Homo sapiens: one gene and its partners. The protein of the gene in region 4 purifies or fractionates together with the protein of the main gene of each other region. This does not show direct contact. Each region holds a gene or a part of one and is shown on either strand. Other genes may lie near its edges.

Region 1 (6,955 bases), on a different chromosome or scaffold from region 4:
TCCCCAGCACCCAGTACAGTGCCTGTAGACCTGCTAAATATATGAATGGTGTTAATCCTGGCAAGGTGCCCAGCATTAGATGGGCCTACAGGGAAGCCTCCAATGTGAGGAACACCAGAGAGTGGTTTGTACAAAGCAGTTCAAAAGCATAGAGGACGAAGGGTTAATTCTGCCCTAGGGGTTGGGGAAGCTGGATTTCTCAAAAGAGGCCACTTTGCATTAAGCCTTAGAGGGTGGGACAGATTTACCCAGGTGGAGACTTGCTTGCTAAAGGGCGGGAACAACCCAAGAGCAAAGGTAAAGAGACTGAGAGCGCGGGACAGGTTGCAGTCGTGTGGTGCACCTGGAGTTCCAGGTATGGGAAGGTGAAAAAGCCCCAGAAAATTATGATGCAGACCTGCACAGGCCGATGCTAGAAAGCCATGCTAGGAGGGTGGACATCCGCTGGTGGAACATCAGGAGATGTTGGAGGTGTTTGCAGAGGGAGGGGGTACCCCGGCGTAGAAGGGCTTTCTAGAGGTCACCAGGATCTGCCCCAGGATCAAGGTGGACTGGAGGAAGCAGTTCCTGGGGCAGGAAGGGCCAAGCTGGGAGGAAGTTTTGGAGGCAACAGAGGGAATCCTTTGTGAGGGAGTGAGGCCTGCACAAGGGCAGGGGAAGAAGCAATAAGATGTTTTCCCTGATCTTGTTAAATCTCACAGGTGCTAGGCAGGGCACGGTGGTTCACGCACTTTGGAAGGCTGGGGTGGGCGGATTGCTTGAGCTCAGGAGTTAGAGACCAGCCTGGGCAACATGGTGAAACCCAGTCTCTACAAAAAAAATACAAAAATTAGCCGGGTGTGGTGATGTGCCTGTAGTCCCAGCTAGTTTTGGGAGCTGAGGCAGGAGGATTGCTTGAACCCCAGAGGTCGAGGCTGCAGTAAGCCAAGATTGCATCACTGCATTCTAGCCTGAGTGAGAAAGTGAGACCTTGTCTTAAAAAAAAAAAAAAAAAACAAAACTCACAGGCACTTGAAAATCATCATGTGTTCAGCCCCAAGCCAGGCACTAAGCAACAGAGGTGGTCATTTCCCAAAAGTCCCTGGTGCTCTTCAGACACTAGGAGGGGACTTCCACGATAGATCCCTATGTCCCTCCCAGTCCCCACACCCTCTCCTCCTTCCCTCAGCTTTATCAGAGGTGTTTACTCTGTACCTACTGTGGGCAGCCCTGGCCTCAGGGCAGCCAGGGCCTAGTCACTGCTCTCTGGAGGAGGCCTGCACAAATGCTGGCCCAGATGTGGCTCCACCCCCATCCTCTAGGGAGCTGGGAAGAAGTTAGATCTAGTGGAAGTGGGGACAAATAGGCAGGGATTCCACGTGTGAAGGGGAGGGCACCAGGAGGGACCTGGATGGTTCTGCGAGAAGGCGAGCAGGGCAGGCTGGAATGCCAGGTGAGAACTCCCTGCTTGGCAGAGCCAGCCCTCCAATCCCACAATCCATTCCCTTTACACCAAGATGAAAGCTAAACTCCCAGCAACCCTGGGAGAGACCAGTGACCCCTCACCTCCCAGGCTTGGGGTGAGCCGGGCCCTGTCCAGCATCAGTCCTGAGCTGAGGGTGCCAGGTTGTCCTCCAAGGCCATCAGAAAGAAGGCACCACGCGGCTGGCTGGTCCCACTCAGTGGATCAGCAGAGGAGGGTGGGTGTACCCTAGAGGACAGCCATGTGTGGTTGGGAGGATGAGACAATTTAACCCAGGCCCCCAGACTGTAAACGGGACAAAGATAGCCGACCCTGCCCTGGGGTCTGGCTGGAGAAACCACCTACGCTCCCATCCAGCGAATCACATCCAGCTGCTCCTCTGAAGATAAACCCATCCTCTCTACCTAATTTCTCTCCTGCCCTCTCCCTGCTACAGGCCTGGCCCTCTCCAGGGACGTGAACTGATTCCCTGTTCATCCAGCCCAGACCCTGGGAGGTGGCGGCCAGAATTAATTAATGTTTGTGAAGTGCTGGAGAGAAGCTAGAACCAAGGACCCAAGGGCGCCAGATGACCGGCGCAGGAAATTGAATGGGAGAGGCGGGGAGAAGGGGCAGCTGGCCAGGACCTTGAAGCCTGGAAGGGGAGGGCTGAGAAGACACTCCTACTGAAGCTGGGAAGAACAGGGAGAGAGCTGTGAGGAGAAGGTGCGACCCCTCAAAGGCACCACGGGATCGGTAATAGAGGATTACGGGCTCCAAGCTGAGCCTGCCCACTCCCGACAGCTCCGCCCTACCCTCAGAGCCGGGCACGTCTCGGCCCGGCTGCCCTTCCCCAACTCAGCCTCCAGCCACCCACCTGCCCGCCCCCGGGACCACCTGCAAAGGAAGCCTCCGTCCCTCCGCCCCCTCCAAAGGCGTGCGCGGGAGGGTAGAGGCTGCGCCGCCGAGGGAGGCTCCTCCTGCCAACTCCAGTAGGGAGCCCGAGTCCTACCTGAGCAAACACTTCACTTCCTTTCTGTAAAAGAAGGAGGCGAGCCGTTCCCGCTCCTTGAGACTAGGGGGACGTCCAGGCCTCTATCGGGGGGCGGCGGCTGGACGCACGCAGCTGGCACCAGGGCCCACGGCGCCCCCTCTTTACCCGCGCCCCTCTCGAGCTCGGCTCACTCACCCCAAAGTGCTGATGAAGCCATTGACGGAGCCCTCGGCGTACAGGGAGACGATGTCCCCGATGTGAAGAAAGCTGGACATTTCACTCATGGCTGCGGCCCTCCGGGGCCCAGGGCGTGGGGGGCGCCTAGGGGCGCGTGGCCAAGCTCAGTGCGGAGGACTGAGGCGTCCGGGGAGCGGGGAGGGGTACGCTCCCACCTCGGATCCCGACGCTCGGTGCGGCCGGGGCGGGCTGGCGGCCACGGGAGCCAGGAGGCGGCTCGGCGGGGCCCGGGGTCCGGGTGAGGAGGTGCCCACGTCTTGGCGCGCCCGCCGCCCGCCCGCCCCGCCCGGCCCGCGCGTACCTGCAGCGTAGAAGGAGCAGGAAGTCTGGGGCCACCACACACATGCAAATCCCGCCCGGGAGGCGGGGAGGCCACACCCCGCCCCCCCTCCCCCCGCAGCTCGCCCGCCGGCACCCATGTGCACCCGCCTGCCTTCCCGCGCCCCGCGCTCCTCGCGCGTCCGGGGCCCGGCCTCCCGGACGCCGAATGCGCCGCCAGCCCTCCTGATCTCCAGAGGCGTCCTGCAAGGCACCGGGTCTAGGGGGCTCTCGGAGCTGCCATCCCTGGGAGGCCCAGGCGTAGTGGGGAGCTCTCCGCCCTCGGGGTTCCCGGACTATCTGCACCCGGGCCCTCGGCTGGCTAAGAGCCAGTGCAGGCGCCCGCGGAAGGGGGAGTCCAGCTCTCCGGCGGGCGTCACCCCGGAGCCGCTCGCGGAGGGCGCGCCCTGGAGCGCCCTGGCCGCGGCCGCCCTGCGGCCACCGCGCGGTCTCCGCGCCCAGCTGAGAGCAGGCTGGCGCCCAGAGGCGCGCTCATCCCTTTGCAGAGCAAATTCGGGATTCATTTTTCTCAACGTGAAAAGCCTTTTCATTGCACAATAGAAAGTGCTCAGGCTTGGAGGGGAAATGAAGCAATGGGGTGGGTTTTGTTTTTTTTCTCTCCGCATTCCTGTGTACAAAGAGATCCAACTTCCGAATCAGTTCAGCCGCTCCCTCTCCAGGAGTTGGCTCCAAAACTCTTGGCTCCTTCCGTCTTTCCTTTCAAAAAAAAAAAAAAAGCAGGGATGAAAATTACCTTCGCTAGTTGACAGAGCACCCAAGCGCTAACGATGCCAAGTCTGGGTGCCGGCCCCCTGGGAGTGACCCGCTGCGGCAGCGCCGCCAGGCTCTGGCTCCCGAAGTCCTGCCCTCAAATTCGCGTCCCGGGCTCGCTTACTTTCTGTTCTGTTCCCCGGTGCTTGGGTGTTTGCTTCCTAGTCCTTTATTTGAACGCCTAAGATAGGGTGCCCATTGCCACCGCCATCCGATCACTTTTGCTCCCTTCGGACCCCCCAACCCCACTTCCTGAGTTGTGGGGGGGCGTTTGTCCCTGGGAGAGAGGGAGGAGGGGACTCGGTGACTGAAGCAGGAAGAAGAGAGGCTAGGGGAGGGGTGGAGACAGCTAAAAGCAAAGAGACAGCTGCTGACCCTGGGAGGAGAAGAGCCCCAGGCAGTGGTTTTTTTGTTGTTGTTGTTGTTTTGTTTGTTTGTTTGTTTGTTTGTTTTACGAAGACCCCCAGGAACGATGTGGGAGGGAAGGACACCTCCAGGATCGCTAAGTACCGTGTTTTACAGTTTTGTTTTGTTTTTTCACCATGGCAAACAGTAACAAGTTTTACAGCAGACCAGTCCACACCTTCGTCTATATATAAGCAAAACAATAGATCACCAAACAATACTTACTTTTATGACCTTTGATGCATGCTGATATTTTCTATTCTATTTCAGTTGTGTTCTTGTTGTTGCTTTAATGCTGATTGTAACCCACTGAACTGGTTTTTTTTAATGTCCCAAATGGGTTGCAAACTGCAGTTTAAAAAACCTCATCCAGTCCACTGTGCCAAAAAGAGATGACCAAAGCCCAGAGAAGGAACACCACCCATCAAGGGCACACGGCAGGTTCCTGGCAACTGGAGGCAGAAGCCAACCAAGCCTCTGATTTTTAGCCGGGTATTCTCCTATTACCCCACACCAACTGAGCCACAGCGATGGGTCACTGGAACCTCACTGAGAAGGGGCAGCCCCTGGGACAGTTTCACTTGCTCCCAGGAGTCAGGCCTCCTGTATCATCCCCAAAAGTTAGAAGGGAAAAATATGCCTTCATTCCATAAGCATTTATTGAAGGCCTGTGATGTCAGGCCTCTGCTGGGCACCAGGCTCTGATCAAGCTGTCAGCCTGGGCCCAATTGCCTTTTTCCCTTCCCCAGACCGTGAGGATGAAGAGGGACAAGTTGAAAACTTGCCTCCAGTGGCCACACTCAGAACTTGTGCCACAGCCACACCCAGGAATCCACCTCCTTCCTCCCCTGACATCCATATAGATGGTTCCATAACTCAGCCGAGGTGTAGCAGCCAGGAATGGAGGTCACTCCACTTTGGGTCTCTCTGGACTAAAGCACATGGCCTTGTTTCTCCCCACCCCTCCCCATCCTAGGAATACTTAGAGCCTCTGTCTCTCCACCAACCAGGAGGTCTCAGAGGTGAGGGCTCTGGGCCCCTGTCACCTGCTTCTTCCAAATCAGCTCCACTGTAAGCTATTTTATATACCTGCGTTCTGAGTTAGAATTTGTTTCAAGAAAGTTTCTGTTGGTTAAACAACAACAACAAAGACCAAAGTTTAAGAAACAGATGGTACAGCTCCAATGAGTTCCCTCCCCTGCTTCCTGCTTGAAGCCTTCCTATGCCTCCTCACTGCCCACAGAAGTCTACAGACCTGAGCCCAGCACACTGGACCCTCAAGTCTTGCTGTCCTCCCACCCTCTGCAGAAAACACAATTGCTCCTCAAGGAGGATCCATGCTGTAGACTGGCCAAGAGTGCAGACTCTGGCTCCCTTTTTTTTTTTTTTTTTTTTTTTAGACGGAGTCTCACTCTGTCGCCCAGGCTGGAGTGCAGTGGCGCAATCTCAGCCCACTGCAACCTCCACCTCCCAGGTTCAAGCAATTCTCCTGCTTCGGCCTCCCGAGTAGCTGGGATTACAGGTGCCCGCCACCACACCCGGCTAATTTTTGTATTTTTAGTAGAGACAAGTTTTCACCATGTTGGCCAGGATGGTCTCAATCTCTTGACCTCATGATCCGCCTACTGCGGCCTCCCAAAGTGCTGGGATTACAGGTGTGAGCCACCACGCCTGGCCCGGACTCTGACTCTTACAGGCCTGGATTAGAGTCCCAGCTCTGCCACTTTCTAGCAGGCATTCTCTCAGCCTGTTTGCTCATCTGTTAAATGGAGAGAGTACCATACCAACATGTGAAGGAAGTGTGAGCCATCAGCACAGCATCCCAGGCAGGAAGGACTCAGTGTGTCCCTTCTCATTTCCCCAGGACCTCATCCACTCATACCCCTGTGCCTGCGCTCCTGTGGCTCTCTCTAGCACTTCACCTTTTCAAGTTCCCATGGTCAGAATAAAGTCTTCTTCCCTAAAGTACTGGAGCACTAATCTTTTAAGTACTATTATGAAATATTTTAAGAAGTAATAGATAAAAATACAGTGAGTGCCTGTATCTTTCCTCTAGCTTTGTCAAATCTTTGTATTTTGCCAAATTTGGTTCTTTTTTTTTTTTTTTTTAAGAATTAAAACTTAGGCCGGGCACGGTGGCTCATGCCTATAATCCCAGCACTTTGGGAAGCCAAGGCAGGCAGATCACCTGAGGTCAGTAGTTCACGGCCAGCCTGGCCAACATAGTGAAACCCCATCTCTACCAAAAATACAAAAATTAGCCAGGCATGGTGGCATATGCCTGTAGTCCCAGCTACTCGGGAGGCTGAGGCAAGAGAATCACTTGAACCCAGGAAGTGGAGGTTGCAGTGAGCCGAGATCATGCCACTGCACTGCAGCCTGGGCGACAGAGTGCAGTTCAATCTCAAAAAAAAAAAAAGAATTAAAACTTAAAAAATTTCAGTTGTGTCCAGGCAAGGTGGCTCACATCTAATCCCAGCACTTTGGGAGGCCGAGTCTGGAGGACCACTTTTGCCCGGGAGTTCAAGACCAGCCTGGGCAACATGGCAAAACACTGTCTCTAAAAAAAAAAAAAAAAAAAAATTAGCCAGGCATGGTCGTGTGCACCTGTAGTCCCAGCTACTTGGGAAGCTGAGGTGGGAGAATCACCTGAGCCCAGGGAGATCAAGGAGGCTGCAGTGAGCCATGATTATGCCACCGCACTCCAGTCTGGGTGACAGAGTGAGATCCTGTCTTAAAAAGAAAAAAGATCAGTTGAAGTTCCTTATGCACCCTTCTCCAACTACATT
Region 2 (7,026 bases), on a different chromosome or scaffold from region 4:
AGAGCAGAGCCGCCGTGCTCACCACAGCAAGGCAGTGCCTGGGCCTCAGCTGGAATCTGCTTCTACAGTCCAGGCCCTTCTAGGTTATAAAAATCGCCTTGATCATGCAAACCCCTAAGCAGCTGCCAGCTCAGTTCAGTGATTTGCAGTCGGCTCTGGAGCAGAGATGGGGGCTGGGCGGAACCTGAAGACTCCCATTACCTTTTCCAGCTTCGCTCTCAGCCTTCTCTCCTCCATCCTTGTCTTCAGCACGTCCACATCCTCCTTGGTGCCATTGAGCATGATGACATCATCCTCCTGGAAGGCAGCCCCACACTGGAGAGGGCAAACAAGAGAGGGCAGATTCCATCACCAGTCAATGGGGAGGCCACGCTTCAGTCCCCCACTCTCAGCCCCAAGCAGTGGCCCCCAGGCTCCGAGTAAATTCCTATTACCGGCTTTCTGGTCAAAGCCTTGGTTTGGAAAGTTCCCGCACACAGCAAAGTGTCAGCGTAGCAGGTTAAGAGTGCTATCACTTGCAAGGCTGGTGCCTGGATGGTGTCTGGGAACTTGGATTTTGGGAGGGTTCCCGCCATTTTTTAACTGACAAGAGTAGCTTGGCTCACCGTGCCTAGACCCTTTTGTATGAACAACGTGGTCTATGCTGACACCTACCTGCTTATGGGAGTGTGGAATTCTGGAACATGCTGGGCCGAGGGTATAAAGCCAGCCCTCAGCCAAAACTCTGGGTACTGAGTCTCTCATTTGCTTCCCTGGGCAAAAACATCACACGTGTTGCAGTTTCGTTGCGGGGGGAAGTATTCACTTCGTACAACCCCTTGAGGGAGGGAGTGCGCGTAAGGAAGCCCCACGTGGATTCCTCCAGACTCTGCTACATGCGCCTTTTCCCTTAACACCCAGCTGTGCATCCATACCACGCTGCTGCAGTGAATGTTAGTTGAATACAACCATATGCTAAGTCTCAAGTCTTTCAGAAAACCCCCAAGCATGACGGCAGCCTTGGGGGCGCCCAACACACCCCGGCAGAACAAGACTGCGAGCAGGGTCTAGACCATCCTGACAGTGTTGTGGTGGTAGAAACGCACACATACACACCAAAGGCATGCCCACACTCACAGAGCTGTCAGTGAGTGAGCCACCTCTGCAGAGGCTCCCTGTGACCATGCTGTCACTGGTGGGATCCCAGCACTCTTTCTGTGTTGGCTCCATGGCACTAATCATGACCTGGAGTCTTGTCTTCATCACTTTGTCTATGTTGTTTTCTTCCCTGCTGTGGCCCCAGCAGCTACCCAGTGCCTAGCACAGCAGAGGTGCTCACGGCTGGGGACAGGAAAAACAGGGAAAAAAAGAGAACGAGGAGTGGAGGTTCCCAGTCCTGCATTTTGAATTGAGATTTCTGCCACCATCTGTCTAGGCCACCTGGCTCAGGCCACACCACTTCTCTGGGCCTCAGTTTCCTCAGCTGCAAAAATGAGGGGTCTAAGACTGGGCGCGGTGGCTTATGCCTATGATCCCAGCACTTTGGGAGGTCGAGGTGGGCGGATCACCATTTGAGGTCAGGAGTTCGAGACCAGCCTGACCAATATGGTGAAACCCCGTCTCTGCTAAAAATACAAAAACTGTGTATGGTGGTGCTGGGTGTGGTGGTACATGCCTGTAGTCCCAGCTACTCGGGAGGCTGAGGTGAGAGAATCGCTTGAACCCGAGAGGCAGGGGTTATGGTGAGCCGAGATCGTGCCACTGCACTCCAGCCTGGGCGACAGAGCGAGACTCCGTCTCAAAAAAAAAAGAGGGGTCTAACCCAAGTGCAGTGGCTCTCTAACCACTTGGGGTCTAACGCAAGTGCAGTGGTTGATCCTGCTCCCTAGTGGACATTCGGCGATGTCTGGAGACATTTTTAGCTGTCACATCTGGGGTGCAGGTGCTATTGGCATCTTGTGGGTAGAGGCCAGGGATGCAGCAAGCATCATACAGTACACAGGATGGCCCCCCCACAGAGAGTTACCCAGCCAAGATGCCCCTGTGCTGAGGTTGAGAAGCCCTGGACTAGGGTTATAAACACCTAAATGTAAAAAAGGAAAGAAGAATAATTTATAGGAAAATGTGTTTTATAACTAGGGTAGGAAATGTCATCTAAAACAGTAGTTCCCAACCTTTTTTGCACCTGGGGCCAGTCTCATGGAAGACAATCTTTCCATAGATGGTTGGGGGAAGGTTTTGGGATGAAACTGTTCCACCTCAGATCATCAGGCATTAGAGTCTCATAAGCAGCACGCAACCTAGATCCCTCACGTGCGCAGTTCACAACAGGGTTTGTGCTCCTAAGAGAATCTAATGCCGCTGATGGAGCTCTGGCACTAATGTTCTCTCGCCTGTGGCTCACCTCCTGCTGTGTGGCCCGGTTCCTAAGAGGCCACGGACTGTCACCGGTATGGGGGTTGGGGACCTGTGATCTAAAGCTTTAAAACTTATTTTAAATAATTTTTATTTAAACTTTAAAAACTTATTTTAAAAAAATAAGTTTTACCATGTAAAAATTACAAACTTTTACATGACAATGTCACAACAACAACAAAAAACAATAAGCCAAAGGCTAAGTGAAATATTCATAGCATATATAACATTCAAAGGATTCATTTATGGAACATACTCATAGTCATGTAAACTTTTTTTCTTTGAGACAGGGTCTCACTCAGTCACCCAGGCTGGAGTGCAGTGGTGCCATCATGGCTCAGTGCAGCCTCCACCTCCCAGGCTCAAGCCATCCTCCCACCTCATCCTCCTACCTCATCCTCCTGAGTAGCTAGGGCTATAGGTGTGCGCCACCATGCCTGGCTAATTTTTGTATTTTTTGTAGAGACAGGGTTTTGCCATGTTGTTCAGGCTGGTCTTGAACTTCTGGGCTCAGGTAATCCACCCGCCTCAACCTCCCAAAGTGTTGGGATTACAGGCGTGAGCCACCATGCCTAGCCTCAGTTTAAAGATTTCATTGATTTTACCCTGAAGCTGGTAGGCCCTGTGTTAAGACATAGTCTCTGCCCCCTATGAGTTGGGTGGCAAGTTTTTAAAAATAAAAAATGGAGCAGTGAGCTTACTATTATCATCTTGTCTATGAAACTTCTGTCTTCCCCTGCCTGAGGAAGTCTCTTCAAACTTTTATTTACTCTGTAGCTAACTCTTAGAAGAGCATTCTGGGTTTCTGTTTTACATCTTCTGATCTCCCAAACCTTTTTTTAGGGGTGGGGGAAGCAGAAATCATGTTCTATCTCTTAGCTCACAGCACAATGCTCAGGACACAGAATGCTAAGAGCCGGCTCTAAAAGGAACAGCTTCAGCACCACGTGCATTTGCTACCTAACTCGCCTTTTTAAAAAACAGGTTTTCTGAAATCTCATTTACATAACATAATGAAGTATAGAGTTCAATGGCTTTTAGTATATTTAGAGTTGTGCAACCATCACCATAATCTAATTTTAGCATATTTTTATCACTTCCAACAGAAATCCCATACCCACTGGCACTCACTCCATTCCCCTTTCCTCAGTCTTAGGCAACCATTAATCTACTTTCCATCCTACAAATTTGCCTCTTCTGGACATTTCTATAAATGAAATCATACAATATACATGTTTTTTTTTTTTGTGACTGGATTTTAGCATAATGTTTTAAAGATTTATCCATGTTATAGTATGGATCAGAACTACATTTCTTCTTATTGCCAAATAAAGTTTCATCTATGAATCAGCTGACAGAGTTGTTTCCACTTTCAGACTAAGAAATTCACATGGAAGTCTTTTGTGGACAGTTGTTTTCATTTCTGTTGGGTAGATACCTAGGATTGGGATGACTGGCCATAAGTTAACTTTATGTTTAACCTTTGGAGGAACTGCCTCTCCTCAAATGATGAACTTCCAAAGAGGCTGCACCATTTTACATTGCCACCAGCAATGCCTGAGGATTCTCATTTCTCCACATCCTTCCCAACACCTGTCATCGTTTTTCTTTTTTTTTTTTTTTTGAGATGGGATCTCGCTTTGTCGCCAGGCTGCAGTCCAGTGGCATGATCTCGGCTCACTGCAACCTCCACCTCCTGGGTTCAAGCGATTCTCCTGCTTCAGCCTCCTGGGTAGCTGGGATTACAGGCCCCCGCCATCATGCCCAGCTAATTTTTGTATTTTTAGTAGAGATGGCATTTCAACCATGTTGGCCAGGCTGGTCTTGAACTCCCGACCTCAGGTGATCCACCTGCCTCCCAAAGTGCTGGGATTACAGGTGTGAGCCACTGCAACCAGCCCATTTTTCCTTTTAGTTATAACCATCCTAATGGGAGTGAAGTGCTGTCTCATTGTGGTTTTAATTTGCATTTCCCAAATGACCAGAGATGTTAAGCATCTTTTCACGTGCTAACTGACCATCTGTATACCTTCTCTGGAGAAATGTCTGCTTAAATCCCTGGTCCATTTCTTAATTGTATTATTTGTCTCTTTGATGTTGCGTTCTAAGAGGTCTTTATACAGCATATTCTGGATATAAGTTCTGTCTTAGTCCAAGACTGTTATGACAAAATATCTTACACTGGATAATTACAAAAGTTTTTTATTTTGATGAAATTGGACTTAGCAATTTTCTCTCTTACTGCTACGTTTTTGGTGTCATATTTAGTAAGTCATCGCCTAACCCAAGATTGTGATTTACTCCTGCGTTTCTCCTAAGTGGTTTGTAACTAAAACTTACAGATTTAGGTCTGTGATCACTTTGAGTTTATTTTTACATTCAATGTAAGGTAAGGGTCCAAATTCATTCTTCTGCATGTGGATATCCAGTTACCCCACACTATTTGTTGAAAAAACTATTCTTTCCCCCATCGAATTGACTTGGCCCTTTTGTCAAAAATCAATGACCATACATGTGAGGGTTTATTTCCGGACTCCCTATTTTATTCCATTGATGTATATGCCCGTTCTCATGCCAGCACCACACTATCTTGATTAGTGTAGGTAACATGACTTCAAAGAGTCACATATTGAGTGGATCAACCAAAATTTATCTTTCTAATATCTATGAAAAACTCTATTAAATGTTATAGTCATAGATGTTTAAAAGTATGCCAGATAAGGTCTGTTATTAACTAAAATATTTAGTTACTCCATAAGACACTGCCTTTGAAAAACATAAAGGCAGGCAACCAAATAATAACAAAATTCTTTCAACAACTGGAACAGTAATTTTAACAGACCTACTGTGCCCAGAGCAATAACAGACATACTATGCCCGGAATCTCTTTTGTAGAAAACATTATCAGCACAAGAAAAGCCATAAAAGTACTTTTTTTTTCCTGAAGTTGCCAAAGATTTTCCAGAATCTCCCAAATGCACAGAAGATACCAACAAGCATTTGCTGACTCTCCTCAGCCCCTGCCTTAGCTGGGTTATTTAATGTGGTTCTTGTCTCCAACAGTGATTTTCAGGTTAAGATCAGCTTTTTTTCTAGGGTGGGTCTGGTAAATTTTCGTGACTGAAGATACCTTTTTGACCCACAAATCCCTGAGGGTGGTGCCATAGAGAAGTTATATGAATGACTGAAGCACGTGCCCAATCTAGCATTTAACTGGTACAACCCTTGAAGAAAAGGAGCTTGTTTTTAGCCATCACTGTAGAGAGCTGGGCCTACAGGAGGAGGGACAGCCTGCTCTGCTAGAGGAGGTTCCCTGGGAAGTCTCACGCTATGGGAGGTCTGAGTAGAGCTTTCCCTTGGCTCTGGAAGATGGTCTCTTCCTTGGAATGAAAAAGAATCTGCAGGAACAGAACCAGGTGGTAGTTAAGGCCCAGTGGGGCCTGGAGCTGTGGCTATGACGTAAAGGGCCCAGGGGTGGGGAGGAACCCAGCGTCTGCTCCCTGTGGGTGCTGCCCCCACCTTTCTTTTTCTCTCCTCCTGGGTTTCTGCTGCTGCTTCTTTCTATCACTCCTTGCTGCCCCTCCTTCCGACAGTGTTGGGGTAAGCGGTCTCCTTCCTCTAGATCAGACTGTTCAGAGGACATGGACCTTATTCTGCATACAGTTGTGTTGTGTTGTGCCCAGACTTATTGTACTTTTAAAGTTGAATTGGCCACTGACAATAAGAAGTCAGGAACCCCTCACATTAGAAATTGAGTAATCTTGCTCTTTCTCTCGAAAATTCAAAAGATCCATTAACACCAAACCCACACCCTCAAGGGCCTCAATGGCTTGAACCTTGGTAGGAATTGCCCCTGGAGACTGGGCAGAGTCCTCCCAACTGCTAGGGGCCCCATCACTCGTTCTGGGTAGGTGCTTGACCCGAGAGACCTGAGTGCAGTGGTTCATCCCTGAAGGATGAGGGAAAACAAGGGTAGGGGCTACTGCGGAGATGGGGAGTGGGGCTGCCGCAAAGTCACAGCTGGTCCACAGGGACCTGCTCCCCACCTCTTTAGTAAATAATATGTATTATACCAACAGAAAATCACCCATATCTTCCTGCTAATGCATTTTTCTTGAGTACTGCTATTGTACGGTAGAAATTATACATCCATTTAAAACTGTATCTTCATCCTTTTTATCGCTTGAAACTCAGATGTCCAAAGAATGGGTGAAATGGTTAAAAAAATCATAATACGGCCAGGCGCGGTGGCTCACGCCTGTAATCCCAGTACTTTGGAAGGCCGAGGCGGGCGGATCACGAGGTCAAGAGATCGAGACCATCCTGGCTAACATGGTGAAACCCCGTCTCTACTAAAAATACAAAAAATTAGTCGGGCATGGTGGTGGGCGCCTGTAGTCTCAGCTGATCGGGAGGCTGAGGCAGGAGAATGGCGTGAAGCTGGGAGGCGGAGCTTGCAGTGAGCCGAGATCGTGCCACTGCACTCCAGCCTGGGCGACAGAGCGAGACTCTCTCTCTCAAAAAAAAAAATTATAATACATTCCCAAAAAGGAAGATTATATGGTTAGAGTTTGGGGCAATGTAGAAAATGCTTATCATAAGTTAAACGAAAAAGCAAACTAGTAATTGTAT
Region 3 (7,026 bases), on a different chromosome or scaffold from region 4:
TCTCCCCATAACCACACTGTGTTTACAACTTCACTTGTCAGGCTCTTCAACTGCAGCTGAAACATTCCTGGCAATAGGTCCAACCAAGGCTGGCTCTACAGGCAAAGGGCTTCACAGAAAAGGAGCTGGCCTGGAGTCCCACACTCAAAGGCAGAGATGATGGGCACAGGAAACAAGTCTGGGAGATTCCCACATCCCTGAGGGGGCAGAACAGAAACCGTGCATCCTGAAGATCAAAGGCTCTATCACACCTCCTGTGGTCCAGTGGCTTCCACTTGGCGTGGATGATGGGGAGGTGACATCATGTGGGAGGGTGTCCTGGGAACAGGTAGAGGTGGCGGCACAGAGTGCTGCAGTATTCAGACATCTCCTTGCACCGGTGGAATTCTGTGCCAGGAGCATAACCTTCCCGATCCTTGATAAGTGCGTTCACCTGGAGGGGCAGAACCAATAGGCCCAAGTCTGAGAATCTCGGGCTTCAGGAGAGCAGCAAACGGGAAGGGGAGACGGACTATGAAAGAGCATTCAAGAGAGGAGGAAAGTAGAGCACTGTGGAGACACACAGGGGTCACGGAGCCCGCTGGCTCACCTTAACCAGCATGTCGGCCACGTGCATATCACAAGCCCGCTCAGAAAACACTTGAGCAAGAGCCTCGATGTACCAGGAACCTCGTTTGGTGTTCCGCATGGCGGCAGTCCCTGCAACCAAAAGGGCATTAATCACAGTGTGAATGCCATCACACAGCTGCACTTCCCAAACTAGACTCGGCCATGACACCTGCACCCTCCCTAGTCAGAGAACCCAGCATGAAGAATCTAAGTCTAGGAGGGTACTCTTTTGGATTATTGGCATACTTTGGAGATACCGTAGGTCTGTTTCCAGACCAGCTTAAGAAAGTGAATATGGCAATAAAGCAAGTCATACAAATTTTCAGGTCTCCCAGTGTATACGGAAGTTATGGTTACTATCCTACAGTCTATTAAGTGTGCAACAACATTATGTCTAAAACATGCATATGCTGTAATTAAAACATACTTTATTGCTGAAAAATGCTAACAGAGGCATGCCAATAGAAAAATGGTGCTGACAGATGCTCAAAGGATTGCCACAAACCTTCAATTTGTAAAAAGCAGCTGAGCATCCCAAATCCAAAAAATCTGAAATGCTTCAAAATCTGAAACTTTCCAAGTGCCAATATGATGCTCAAAGAAGGTGCTCATGGGAGTGTTTTAAATTTAGAATATTTGGATACGGGATACTCAACTAGTAAGTATAACGCAAATATTCCAAAATCCAAAAAAACAAAAAAATCCAAAATCTGAAACACTTCTGGTTCCAACACTTCAGATAAGGGATACTCAACCTGTACCTGCAAAGCACAATAAAGCAAAGTGCAACAAAATGAGGTATGACTCAACTCTTTTGGAACTCAAAGTACCTTTGAGGCAGGCATAGCCGCATATCATGTCTGAGCGCGTGGGCAGTCTCATCTTCGGCAACTTTTCTTTACCGGCATCACTCTCCTCGCACCCAGGGGATCCTGCGTGGTTCTTTCCATCTTGTTGGTCAACCCCACGATCAGTCTCATCTGTAACAAAGGCAGACAGAATGGACAATGATGTTACTTCTTCCTATCTCTCTTGGGCCTGTCACAGGCAAGCCCACGTTCCCTACAACCTTGAAGGGGAAGAGCCATTTCCAGCTGTTGCCTCCAACCTATGGCTGATAAACTAAAAAAAAAAAAAAAAAATTATTACTCTCTCAGCATGCATCTGTTACTCAGGGGATGCCTCATACACACCGGGCACCACGCTCAAGCACATGCACATCTATGCGGTTGGAGCAGTTCCCATTCTGTGTAAGACAGGGAAAATGCCAAATCAAATACTCCTTGTAAATGGAACTGAAAATCATCTAAGTCCACAACTCACTTGTTCAATTAACAATATGCCTGGGAGTCACAGTGCTTTTTATTGCAATACATAATAAAATATTGATATATTTAATTACATAAACAAGAAAAAACAAGGTAATAAATAACAAATACGGTTACCATATGTATGCTATATAAAAATCACAACCTCGAACTATGTATCAAAAAATAATAAAACTAAGTATGATCAGTTGTTTCCAAGGTGGTTTTGATATCTTCGAAGCACTATGTTTATTAATTTCATAAGATAAATTATAGCAAGCATCCAAGATTTAAGAAAAAAAATTTTTAATTTATTTTTTAAAATAACTTTTTAAATCTTTTTTTTTCTTTTTTTAATAGAGATGGGGTCTTGCTACGTTGACCAGGCTTGTCTTGAACTCCTGGCTTCAAGTGATCCTTCTGCCTCGGCCTCCCAAAGTGTTGGGATTATAGGCATGAGTCACTGCACCTGGCCTTATGAAAATTTTAAGAGGAAAAACTTAAAGTGGGGAGAACTTGACTGTTTTCTCCCAGAAAATTTAAAAAGATCATCCTTATTCAATTTTAGCAGTAATTTCTCAACATACCCTGAGCAGATCCTTGCTCTTGATACAAGCCTTATGTATCCCAAGACAGACTCTTATTTTTGATGATGTTGTTTTATTTTGGGTGTGGGCAGGGGTGCTGTCAGTAGGCAAGACAGATGGGGAGGACTCTCAGGTCAACACATCAAAAGTAAGAGTATGCTCTTTTACAGTACTTCCTGATCCATGCAATGTCGAGGGAGCCTAGGAAAGAAGGGAAGCTTCAAGAATTGGGGGAAAAGGACCAAAGCACAGGTTTAATAAAAATGTGTCAAGCAACTGCCATGTGTTGGGCACTGTCTTACTTTAAGGCCTAGGGATAGAGTGAAGAGAAAATTCCTGCCGTCATGGAGCTTACACTCCAGTTTAGAAGCTGACTGGGGCAGGGGGGTGGAGCTTTTTCTAGACATTAATTATATTAACCAAATACAGCAGGAAGACAGGTGAACTCAAATTTTCAATGGAACAATTGGCTACTGGTCATTCCTTGAAGGATTTAATTTCAGAAAAGTTAGAGAGACAGAGCAAAAGATCCAGATTACTCCAGAAAAGAGCAATTACTCCTTATCCAGATCCAATAGTGTATTAAATCCCTGGATATAGGATGAGAAAATCACAATTTAACGTCGTTTTGTTAGTAAAGACGCCTAAAGGAAACAGGCCAAGCTAAAGAGAAAGGAGAATTCCTCTCTCACCTTTATATCACAGATCCATCAATCAATAAATGTCACTGGTTCTTTTGTCACAATATCCTCATATTTGTTTTTTACATAATACCTACAGTTTTTCAGGCAGATTAATTTTCATCCATTCATTGAACATTTATAAGTGCTACCATGCATCAGGCAGTGCCCTGGGCCTGGGGATAGAGCAGGGAATGAAAAGTAAAGTTGCTGACCCATAACCTCTTTCCTTAGTGCAGCCCCCTCCATGGCAACCTTGCTGGAAAAACAATTCATCACATTATTTCTTACTTAAGCTCCCAACTGTTCCTTACTTTTACCTGCTGATGTCCAAAACCTCAGTTATGACTAAAGGTTTGTAAGGAGGTGAACCCACTTCATTGTGACCAGCCACATCTCACATACTCACACAGATGCTATTTTAAAATCAGATCCGAGCATCTGTTTGGGAGGAGGGGAGACACAACATGCCCTCTGCCTCTCAGTGTACTTATCATATTGTATTGTTTCTTTCCTACGACAGACTCTAGATACTACTCTATAACTATGTAAATCAAATTACTCCAGGTACAAATTAAGCCTTATCTTATCTAAAAAATCTCTTTAAACTACCCTCACTTAAAATGATCTACTCTTACTGCATACTCCTTCCTAAGTACAGTTTGTACCTTGCTAATTTCACCTTTGCTTACATGAGGCCTGTGAACTAGTCTTAAGCTACTTCATGTATATTTACTTTATTTTCCTGAGTAACTGGTCTGCTCCTTAGAGAGGCCACATTTCCTTCTGCTTTTGCGGTAGTAACTGCCGTAGTCTGAGTCATGTTGCAGGGCCTCAGCAGACTATATTCTGCGGTAATACTAGATCAGGATGACAATAATATTAGCTATTTACATTTGGCCACATGAGAGATTAAAAAAGTAATTATTTGAATGTTTGGACAAAGTGACCTTTAAAGCAAACTATAAGCCCTTTACGGCACTGATCGTGTTTTAAGAGTTACAGCTGGCATATTTTGTGGATGTGCTGTGAGCCAGGTACTGAGCTATGTAAGCCCTTAAATGCATAATCTCATTTAACCATCACAAGCACCTTATGAAGTAGGTACAAGGACTATTTTCATTTTATATTGAGGAAACTGAGATGGAGGGATGCCATTTAACTTCTTTAACTTCACGTTACTAGTAAATGGTGAAGTCAGAATTTGACTCCAAAGTTAGGGCTCTTAATTACTATTATTTTCCTCCAGGATGAGAAGCACACCTATGTGTCTTTTAATCCTCGTCCTGCAGTCCTGGCTCTTAAAGGAGTAAAACAGACTGCATGAGAGAAAGAGGGGCAGCAGCAGCTCACGGAAAAGGAAGAGTCAAAGGCCAACACGGATTCTGTTCTGCTATCCTGCATGACCCAAGAATGGTAAGAAGAAAGAAGAAAGGAGGCAAGCATGGAAGTGTAGGTAAACAGGGAAGTATATGGAACAAGTGAAAAGAACAAAGAGTGAAAGAAAGGAGATAAAATAAGAAGGACAGGAAAAAGACAGATCAAAAATCCGTAACTGGAATGAGTAACCAAAAAAAGGGCACCAGAGTTAATGAAGCACAGAAAAGAGTAAGAGTTCTCAGAAAGGAAGGCAAAGACACGGGATAAGAGACCTGAAAACAGGATATGGTGGTGCACGGAGAGCTGACCAGCCTGAGAGCCATGGGCTGCCCAAGTCCCAGCACACCCCATGCATTGGGAGACACTTACAGAGCAAGAGAGGCGGTGGCAGCAGTGAACAGAAGGAGGTGCCCAAGGGATCCAATAGCACCTGAGAGGAGCAAACAGGAAAGTGAGAGCTGGTGGGAGGCTGCCCAGGAGCCACCACCCAGGTGCTGGTCTGCTAGGGCACTCACCTCCACGGCAGGCCTGGATGAAGAACATTTTTGGTTTGTTCTGTAGGCTTGGGCAGTTGGCGTTGTCAAAGAGCTGAAAAACCTCTTGGAGCTGCCAGAAAGAAAGAAGGAAGAAGAGAGGTTAAGCATTCAGCGGGGCCTCCTAAGTCCTACACATGCAACAGTAGCCATCACTTGACAGACAGCAGGCAGGAGGTAAAGCAGCCTGGTTTCAACAGTTGGCTTCCACCAGGGTATCCGCACCTGGAGCAGTTTCCCATCCACACCATAGATGGCGCCCTCCACACCATGCGAGAGGAGTGCCACGATGCAGGAGTCCGTGACTCGGTGTGCAGGTAACTGTGCAAAATTCTGCAGTTTCTCTTGCATTTCCTAAAAGAAAGGAATGTTTAGTGTTGTGCACTAAGGTCAGCACCAACATAAGCATCAAAGTTTGGTTTCTTTTTGAAACCCTAAGCTATTAGAAGATAAAACGCTTTATGTATATTCCTGTGGTCAATGATAAAAGAAGAGACCTTTTGAGAGACTAAAGAAAGCTATGGACTCACCAGAAAAATGCATATGAGTTCAGACACAATATTCTGAATACAGATTCAGACTCACTGAGATAGGCAAACAGCTCCTGGATTAAAGCAAGTTACTAAAGAAGCTAATCATGAGCTGGTCAACTCTGATTAATTCCCTGTTCATAACCAGATCCTTCATTAGAGCAACTGCCCTTGTATATAAATGGCACAAGGGTGACTCAAAGTGTAGCTATGAATAAGTAACATGCACATTCAGCTACACGAAAATAAACTGTTCTGTGACAGCATCATGATAGTAGAGAATAGCAATACTTGTATGTTGTCTTCTAAGATTCTAAGTGTCCAAGAGATAATGATGATGACTGTATAAAATGCTTTGTTTCAGAAAGAGCACGCTATGAAGGAGGATTCTGTACAGGGCAGTAATTACATACACAGGTCCTGGGTTCAGATTAATCTAGGTTTGAACCTTGGCTTCATGAGTTGGAACAGCTTACTCAGACCCTTGAGACCTCACTTTTCACTTTATAAAAAAAAATTATGAGGATATTTTCTCTAAGTTTGTGAAGATAAAAATGAGATATTATGACAAAGGACTTGGCCTGGACAACCTAGCAAGACTCCATCTTTAAAAAAAAAAATTAGCCAGGCATGGTGGTGCATGCTTATAGTCCCAGCTACTCTAAAGGCTACGGTGGAGGGATCACTGGAGCCTAGGAAGTTGAGGCTGCAGTGAGCTGTGACTGCACCACTGCACTGTAGCCTGGGTGACAGAGAGAGACCCTGTCTCAAAAAAAAAACCAAAAACCGATCACTGTGTCTGGGACACATTGCAAAAAATGTGCCATTACAATGTGCATGTCGAATAAAGAGTATTTTTCTCAAAGAAATCTATTACTGGTCAATGTTGTAGTCCAACTTAAGAACTGTTTTCCTGTTTATCTTTTTTTTTTTTAGACAGGATCTTGCTATATTGCCCAGGCTTGAGTGCAGTGACTATTTACAGGTGTAAGATCACTACTGATCAGCACAGGAGTTTTCACCTGCTCCATTTCTGACCTGGGCTGGTACACCCCTCCTTAGGCAACCTGGTGGTCCGCCACTCCCAGGAGGTTACCATATTGATGATGAACTTAGTTTGGACACCTGATCAGCATAGCACACTACAGCCTAGAACTCCTGGGCTCAAGGAATCTTCTTGCCTCAGCCTCTAGAGTAGCTGGGACCATAGGCATGTGCCACCATGCCTGGAGAATCTTGTTTATCTTGCACTAAGTTGCGATACATGAAGAGCACTACCTTAAGCATTTGGTCCATCCATCAGAAGGTTATACTGTGTACCTAAAGAGCATAATAATTGGGCACACATGTTTAAACCTATGCCTCCCTCTATAATTCACGATGTCTGGGTCTTCTGAGAT
Region 4 (7,026 bases):
TGGATGCCTTTCATTTCATCTTCTTGCCTAATTGTTCTGGCTAGGACTTCCAGTACTATGTTATTAGAAGTGGTTAGAGTGGGCATTCTTGTCTTGTTCCCAATCTTAGAGGAAAAGCTTTCAACTTTTCATCAGTGAATATGATGTTAGCTGTGGGCTTGGCACAGATGGCATTTATTATGTTGAGATACATTCCCTCTATACATCTTTGTTGATAATTATTATCATAAAAGGATGTTGAATTTTATCAAATGCCACTTCTGCATCTATTGAAATGTCCACCTAATTTTTATCCTGAATTCTGCTAATGTGTTGTCATATTTACTGATTTGTGTGTGTCAAACCATCTTTGCATCCCAGAGATAAATCTCACTTGATCATACTGTATGATCCTTTTAATGTGCTATTGAATTCATTTTGCTAGTATTTTGTTAAAGATTTTGCATCTATGTTTACCAGGAATATTGGTCTGTAATATTCTATTATTTCAGTATTCTAGTCTGCCTTTGGTTTGAGGGTAGTGCTGGCCTCATAAAATGAGTTTGGAAGTATTCCCTCTCTGTCAATTTTTGGGGAAAATTTGAGTAGAATTTGTGTTAATTCTTCTTTAATGTTTGGTGGAATTCACTGGTGAAGCCATCAGGTCCTGGAGTTTCCATGGTTGGAAGGTTTTTGATTACCGACTTAATCTTCCTACTTATTCTGTTCAGATTTTCTATTCATGATTCAGTCCTGGTAGGTTGTACATTTCTAGGAATGAATTCATTTCTTCTAGATTATTCAATTATTGGCATGTAACTGTTCATAGTAGTCTCTTATGAGCTTTTGTATTTCTGTGGTATCAGCTGTAATGTCTCCTCTTTCATTTCTGATTTTGAGTCTTCTCTCTTTGTTTCTTAGGTTAGCTAATGGTTTGTCAATTCTACCTTTCAAAAAAGTTTTAGTTTAATTTTTTTCTTGTCTCTATTTCATTTATTTCTGCTCTAATCTTTATTATTTCCTTCCTTCTGATAACTTAGGGATTAATGTGTTCTTCTTTTTTCTAGTTCCTTGAAGTGTAAAGCTAGATTGTTTATTTAAGATCTTTTTTTATTTTTTATGAAGGCATTTATCACTATTAACTTCCTTCTTCAAACTACTTTTACTGCATCTCAAAAGTTTGTTATGATGTGTGCTATTTTGATTTGTCTCAAGATATTTTTAATTTCTCTTTTGATTTTTTTCCTTGACCCATTAGTTGTTCAGGAGTTTGTTGTTTAATTTTCACATATTTGTGAAAACTGAAAATTCACAGGAGTTTTTCAGTTTTTCCCCTGGTATTGATTTGATGACAAAGTCATTATCTTTCATAAAATGATATTTCATACAATTGCAAAGAGAATAATAAAACTTTTTGTGAGAATATAAACTGCAGGCAATTTAAAGAATATCTTTGGAACATTGCTTACATGTGTCCTCCCATATATGCTTTTACTCCCACAGTTCTTATTTCTTTTAGACTACATTTTTACAACAGCTCCATACAATGTATCTGATTCTAACCCTTTAACCTTCTTTCAATATACCATACACACTGTCATCACCTTCATTGTCAAATCTGCTACCTGAAAAAAATATTTAAAAAGTCCCATTCATAACAGAATGAAACCCAAACTCCTTATCTTGCTATGCATGGTGCTTCATGATCTGGTATCAACATGCCTTTTAATCTCTCTCAACCACCATTTCCCCTCATAGCCTTTTGTTCCAGCCAAACAACATGTTTTCTACTGCTCAAACACTGTATTTTCATATCTTTGTTGTTGGCTCAGCCTGCACCCTAAATGTGGAATGACCTTTCACAAATCTTCTTAAATCCAACTTATCTGTACCCAGATGAGCTAGCAAATAAAGGTTTAAATAAGTAAAGAATTTAGCTTTTATCATGTAAAAAGGAGGTCCAGACATGACCATCTATTGCTGGTAAAGTGTTTTCACAGAACCCTGGGGAACTCTTGACTTCTTTTAGATTTTATACTTCCGCTTCTTGCCTAATGGTTGCAAAATTACTGCTTCACCCCCAATACTACACTCACATTCCAGAAAGGAAGTGGAAAAAAATAGAGAAAACAGCATATGGCAGCCAAGTCTTATCACCTTTTTTAAAATTTCCCTACACAGCAACTTCCAAATATATTTCATTGGGCATAATTATATCATAACTAATCTTAGCTACAAAGAAAGCTGACAAAATATTTCCTAGTCAAAAAATGTTGTACTAGTGAGGAAGGAAAATAAGGTGAAACCGATATGCATTCAGCAATGTTGGCCTTAATATTTGTTTATTTTCATAATTGTCTTCTCCTGGTTGTCTGGAACTTCAAAGTCATCTTTGTACCTTCTAGTGCAGCATGCACAAAGAAGATACTTATTATATATTTGAGTAAGTTTAACTTTATAAATGACAAGGGAAAGAGAACCATTTTTGCATTTAAGCATGATTGTATTCCATCGTAATGAAAGCATAAACTTAGATAACTTGATCAAGAGTAAGCAAACTACTGCCTGGGGGCAAAATGTCGCCTACATTGTTTTTGTGCACACCATGAACTAAGAATAGTTGATACATTCTTATAGGGTTTTAAAAAATAAAAACAGGAATATGTAGCAGGGACTGTATATAAACTGCAAAGCCTAAAAGATATGCCGTCCGGCATTTTACAGAACATATTTGCCATCCCTTGACACCGGTTAAAATGTACTACATTTCTTTTTTTTAGTGTTATTTAAGGATCTAGTTGTATTATTCCAGGGTCATTGGAGCCATCTTTGTCTTTTGAAACAATGTATGTGAGAAAACTTGCCAGCCAACCCTTTCTCTTGTCAGGAAATTCAAATGTCCTACCCATTCCACAGAGAAACTGATGTTAGGACTTCCATAATGCTCCTCACTCAGACTTATGAGCTAAATTTCCAGGTTTGAAAGTACACTATAATTTTTGATTATTTTTAAGTAATAGTGTTCTCCTACCACTATACAAATTTAAAGAAAAAAATTATAGTTCCAAAGCAGAAATAAGCATGAGAGCCAATTAATTGTATTTCACACATGCAATTATTGGATAACTCTATATGTGAAGCTAAAGGGACAAAGCAATATTTTTCCTATTGACTCTGCTCCATAACTTGACTAAATTATCCAAGCCAATGATCTGAGGAAGCATATGTGAAACCACCTAGAAGTATTTTACTTTCATGTTGTGTAAGGTATATTTTAAGTTATCTTAATGTTGCATAAAGTCTTCCCATAATCTCAAGAAGGACAGGGAGCAATTTTATCTTACTTGTCACTAAATCCCCCAGTGCCTATTGCAGTGCCTGGAAGGGATTTTATAAGCTGTGTGTGTGTGTGTCTGTGTGTGTGTGTGTGTGTGTGTGTGTGTGCGTGCACATGTGTACATGCATTCCTACTTCCCCTTCATCTCAAGGCAATGAAGTATTGTTTCCATTGTCATATGTCACCTTCTGTTAATGATGAGCAGATCACTACATGGACGAAGTTAAGGAGCTCTACTTCTCGCATATAAATTCTACTTTTCCTATGTAAGTTCTACTTCATCCACGTAAGTTTAGAGTGCTGGAAAATAACATATGAAGAAAGTAAAATGTAAAACATTGGCATGGTTTCTGAAGGTCAAATATATAGTCACTAATGGAATCAGGATCAACACCGTTGCTCAAGCATAATACCACGGTGTCTCTGTTTCACTAAGTTTCCTCTCCTGTAAATAGTCCATGTCCTTAAATTTGCTGGATTTTTTTAATAAAAGTAAGTCATGTAATCCCAAGTAATATGAAGGTATACACAAGTACTCCAAAAAGGTTCAGAATAAAGTAACTGAAGTAACAAGGCACACTCTATTGATATGCATTAAAACAAAAAATCTCAACAAACCAAGCAAGTTTCTTGCAGAACCTAAGGACTTCTATATTTCATTAAGAAAATGTATTGTAAAGGTAAAAAAGCAAATGATAGAACAGAAACAGCGCAATATTCTGAATTGAAGAAACAGTGCAATATTCTGAATTACAGTGGTCTTTAAGTAAATAATAAGCATTAATATTCTCTTCATAAAGACGAGTTTACTAATTTAGTATCATAAAAACATTTTTTTTCAAAAGCCATGTCCAAGTGGGCACCAGTTAAAATAGGACAGGGGTGATTGTTACACTTTCAATTTGTGGAACATTTTTCTTCCTTAAACATTCCAGAGCTTTTATGCAAACATAATTATTAAAGTGCATATGTCATTGGTTCTGAACTTAATATCTGAATTTTCTGTGAGAAAAACAAGGAATTCTTTTCATTTGGATCCTGACTCAGCACTTACATCCCATTTACTTTTAGTCACTGTGTTTCTGCTTACAGTATGTGAAATACTCTCACCAGAACAAAGGTCCCAGCGTCAATAAGTCAAACCGCAGACTCTGACAGCTGAGTGAATAGCAGAGGCCAGAGTCCACTTGAAGTGTTCACACTCTCAGAGGCCAAGTTTAGATCTTATCTGCCTGAGATTCCTTTTAACACTGATTTGTCATAGCAGGTAGCTGACAGCATCTACTCCTGAAGACCGGAAACATGGCTTGTACCATCCAAAAGGCAGAAGCACTTGACGGGGCTCATTTGATGCAGATCCTCTGGTATGATGAGGAAGAGTCTCTCTACCCAGCTGTATGGTTGAGAGACAACTGTCCGTGCTCTGATTGCTACCTGGATTCTGCAAAAGCACGGAAACTTCTAGTGGAAGCTCTTGATGTGAACATTGGAATTAAAGGCTTGATATTTGACAGAAAAAAGGTAATTATCTCTAAATTATGTCTCCCTTCTTTCTCAAGTTCAATAATGGGGCTAGTCAACAATAATTTAGATAACTCTTTTTTATTTGGTCACGCATATATAACCGCATATGAACCCACGTTTGTATAGTACTTGGTGCGAATTAAGTATATTCAGTAAATGGAAGCTTCAGCTATTATTATTACTATTATCATTACTACTACTATTTTTAATAAAATTTGCAGTGTTACTTGTCTTTTAGTCAAATTAGTATGTAGAGATACAAGGCTTGTTCTGGGATTCCCAAAAGCACAGCTCTCAAAACTACAAACCAGAGGCAGCCACCATTCCATGTTTCTCTCTTCCAAATTTACTAGGATTCTTATTATGCTCTTGTCCACATCCCGACTTGAGGACTTTACTCCCAGATTTCACTGCTTGCTAGCTAGATAGAAATGTTGTTTACTCTTACATTTCTCACCTGAAAAAAATGAGAATAATAGTAGTACCTTCCCCCTAGAGTTGTAAAGATTAAATGTGTTATGTCTATAGTACTTGTTATGGATACTCAAAATAGTGTTATTTTTATTATTGCTGTTGTACTCCTTATCATCACTACTATTACTTACTTTTATTTATTTATTTTTGAGATGGAATCTTGCTCTGTTGCCCAGGCTGGAATGCAGTGGGGCGATCTCAGCTCACTGCAACTTCCGCCTCCCGGGTTCAAGCAATTCTCCTGCCTCAGCCTCCCAAGTAGCTGGAATTACAGGTATGGGCCACCATGCCCGGCTAATTTTTGTATTTTTAGTAAAGACGGGGTTTCACCATGTTAACCAGGCTGGTCTCAAACTCCTGACCTTGTGATCTGCCTGCCTCGGCCTCCCAAAGTGCTGGGATTACAGGCATAAGCCACCACACCCAGCTGCACCATTACTATTTCTAATACTCTTGGCAGGAATCTTAATTGACAACTAGCTTCAGTTATCACAGAAAGTTTGGGGATCCCAGGTTTAGAGGATGTAGGTCAAGAACTGTAGATCTATCCATGCTCTATTTCTTGAGTGCTATTTAAGGGCCTCAGACCTCAGATGTATTACTTTGGCTTCCTTGTTTTCCAAAAGCGTATGCTTAATCTCTGTCTTAAAAATTAAGCTGGCCAGGCATGGTGGCTCACGCCTGTAATCCCAGCACTTTGGGAGGCTGAGGCGGGCGCATCACAAGGTCAGGAGATGGAGACTGTCTTAGCCAACATGGTGAAACCCCGTCTCAACTAAAATACAAAAAATTAGCCAGGCGTGGTGTCGCGTGCCTGTAATCCCAGCTACTTGGGAGGCTGAGGCAGGGGAATCGCTGGAACCCGGGAGGCAGAGGTTGCAGTGAGCCGAGATTGCGCCACTGCACTCCAGCCTGGCAACAGAGGAAGACTCCGACTTAAAAAAAAAAAAAAAAAAAAATTAAGCAAAGCATAATTGGATTCCCTGATTATCTTAAACAGCATTCAAAAACAGAGCAATAGTGGAGAACGGAAATAAAATCCACATAGGTGAAATTTGCTTTTTGTGTTATAAGGTGTACATCACATGGCCCGATGAGCATTACAGTGAATTCCAGGCTGATTGGCTGAAGAAAAGATGCTTTTCCAAGCAGGCCAGAGCAAAGCTCCAAAGAGAATTGTTTTTTCCAGGTAACTTTGCCAAAGTCTTCAATGTCTTTTTAAACCCTTACAGTAAAGGATTTTTATTAAGAAATTTGCTCACAGAAAATTCAAACCTTTGTGCTTTGATTAAAATATGTGACATGTAAATTATGTGGTGTATTTAAAGTTTTACCGACAAATATCATTTGGGTAGAGATGAAAAGGAGTATAGAGTAATTCTAGACATTCTACAGAGAAAGAAACAAAATAAGTCCAGCAAACTTGTGTCTTTGTCATCTAAAGCAAAACCTGGCACAGCATACCACAGACACTCCGTAAGTGTTCACTACAAAGAAGCAGGATGAACTAGAGGCAGACTGGCCCTTTATAACAATTTTGTCTAAGGCCAGAACAACACAAATCAACAAAGCAAGAATTCCTAACCTGGTATTCATAGATGGAATTATGGGATTGATGAACCCATGAAACGGTACGCATAGCACTGCAAATGCCAGTGAGTGTGGGACAATTTGTGTGTGTGCATGTACACACACATGCACACAAAGCCACG

The links.
Region 1: the proteins of BBOX1 (region 4) and ITPR3 purify together in Homo sapiens (affinity purification with mass spectrometry; 3 studies listed by BioGRID and IntAct, with this or other methods). This does not show direct contact.
Region 2: the proteins of BBOX1 (region 4) and RTF2 purify together in Homo sapiens (affinity purification with mass spectrometry; 3 studies listed by BioGRID and IntAct, with this or other methods). This does not show direct contact.
Region 3: the proteins of BBOX1 (region 4) and CASP2 purify together in Homo sapiens (affinity purification with mass spectrometry; 3 studies listed by BioGRID and IntAct, with this or other methods). This does not show direct contact.

What each region holds. Positions count from the first base shown.
Region 1 is NC_000006.12:33,617,367-33,624,321, reverse strand, and holds the start of ITPR3 (inositol 1,4,5-trisphosphate-gated calcium channel ITPR3), read right to left. Parts: upstream 3,001-6,955; 5' UTR 2,720-3,000; coding exon 2,631-2,719; intron 2,534-2,630; exon of another isoform or gene 2,454-2,533; intron 977-2,453; exon of another isoform or gene 1-976.
Region 2 is NC_000020.11:56,506,604-56,513,629, reverse strand, and holds part of RTF2 (replication termination factor 2), read right to left. Parts: intron 316-7,026; coding exon 202-315; intron 1-201. UniProt on the Homo sapiens protein: Replication termination factor which is a component of the elongating replisome. Required for ATR pathway signaling upon DNA damage and has a positive activity during DNA replication.
Region 3 is NC_000007.14:143,298,347-143,305,372, reverse strand, and holds part of CASP2 (caspase-2 isoform 1 preproprotein), read right to left. Parts: intron 6,857-7,026; exon of another isoform or gene 6,561-6,856; intron 5,451-6,560; coding exon 5,322-5,450; intron 5,170-5,321; coding exon 5,079-5,169; intron 4,994-5,078; coding exon of another isoform or gene 4,933-4,993; intron 1,590-4,932; coding exon 1,440-1,589; intron 700-1,439; coding exon 590-699; intron 434-589; coding exon 302-433; 3' UTR 1-301. UniProt on the Homo sapiens protein: Is a regulator of the cascade of caspases responsible for apoptosis execution. Might function by either activating some proteins required for cell death or inactivating proteins necessary for cell survival.
Region 4 is NC_000011.10:27,050,813-27,057,838, forward strand, and holds part of BBOX1 (gamma-butyrobetaine dioxygenase), read left to right. Parts: intron 1-4,556; exon of another isoform or gene 4,557-4,580; 5' UTR 4,581-4,618; coding exon 4,619-4,837; intron 4,838-6,388; coding exon 6,389-6,503; intron 6,504-7,026. UniProt on the Homo sapiens protein: Catalyzes the formation of L-carnitine from gamma-butyrobetaine.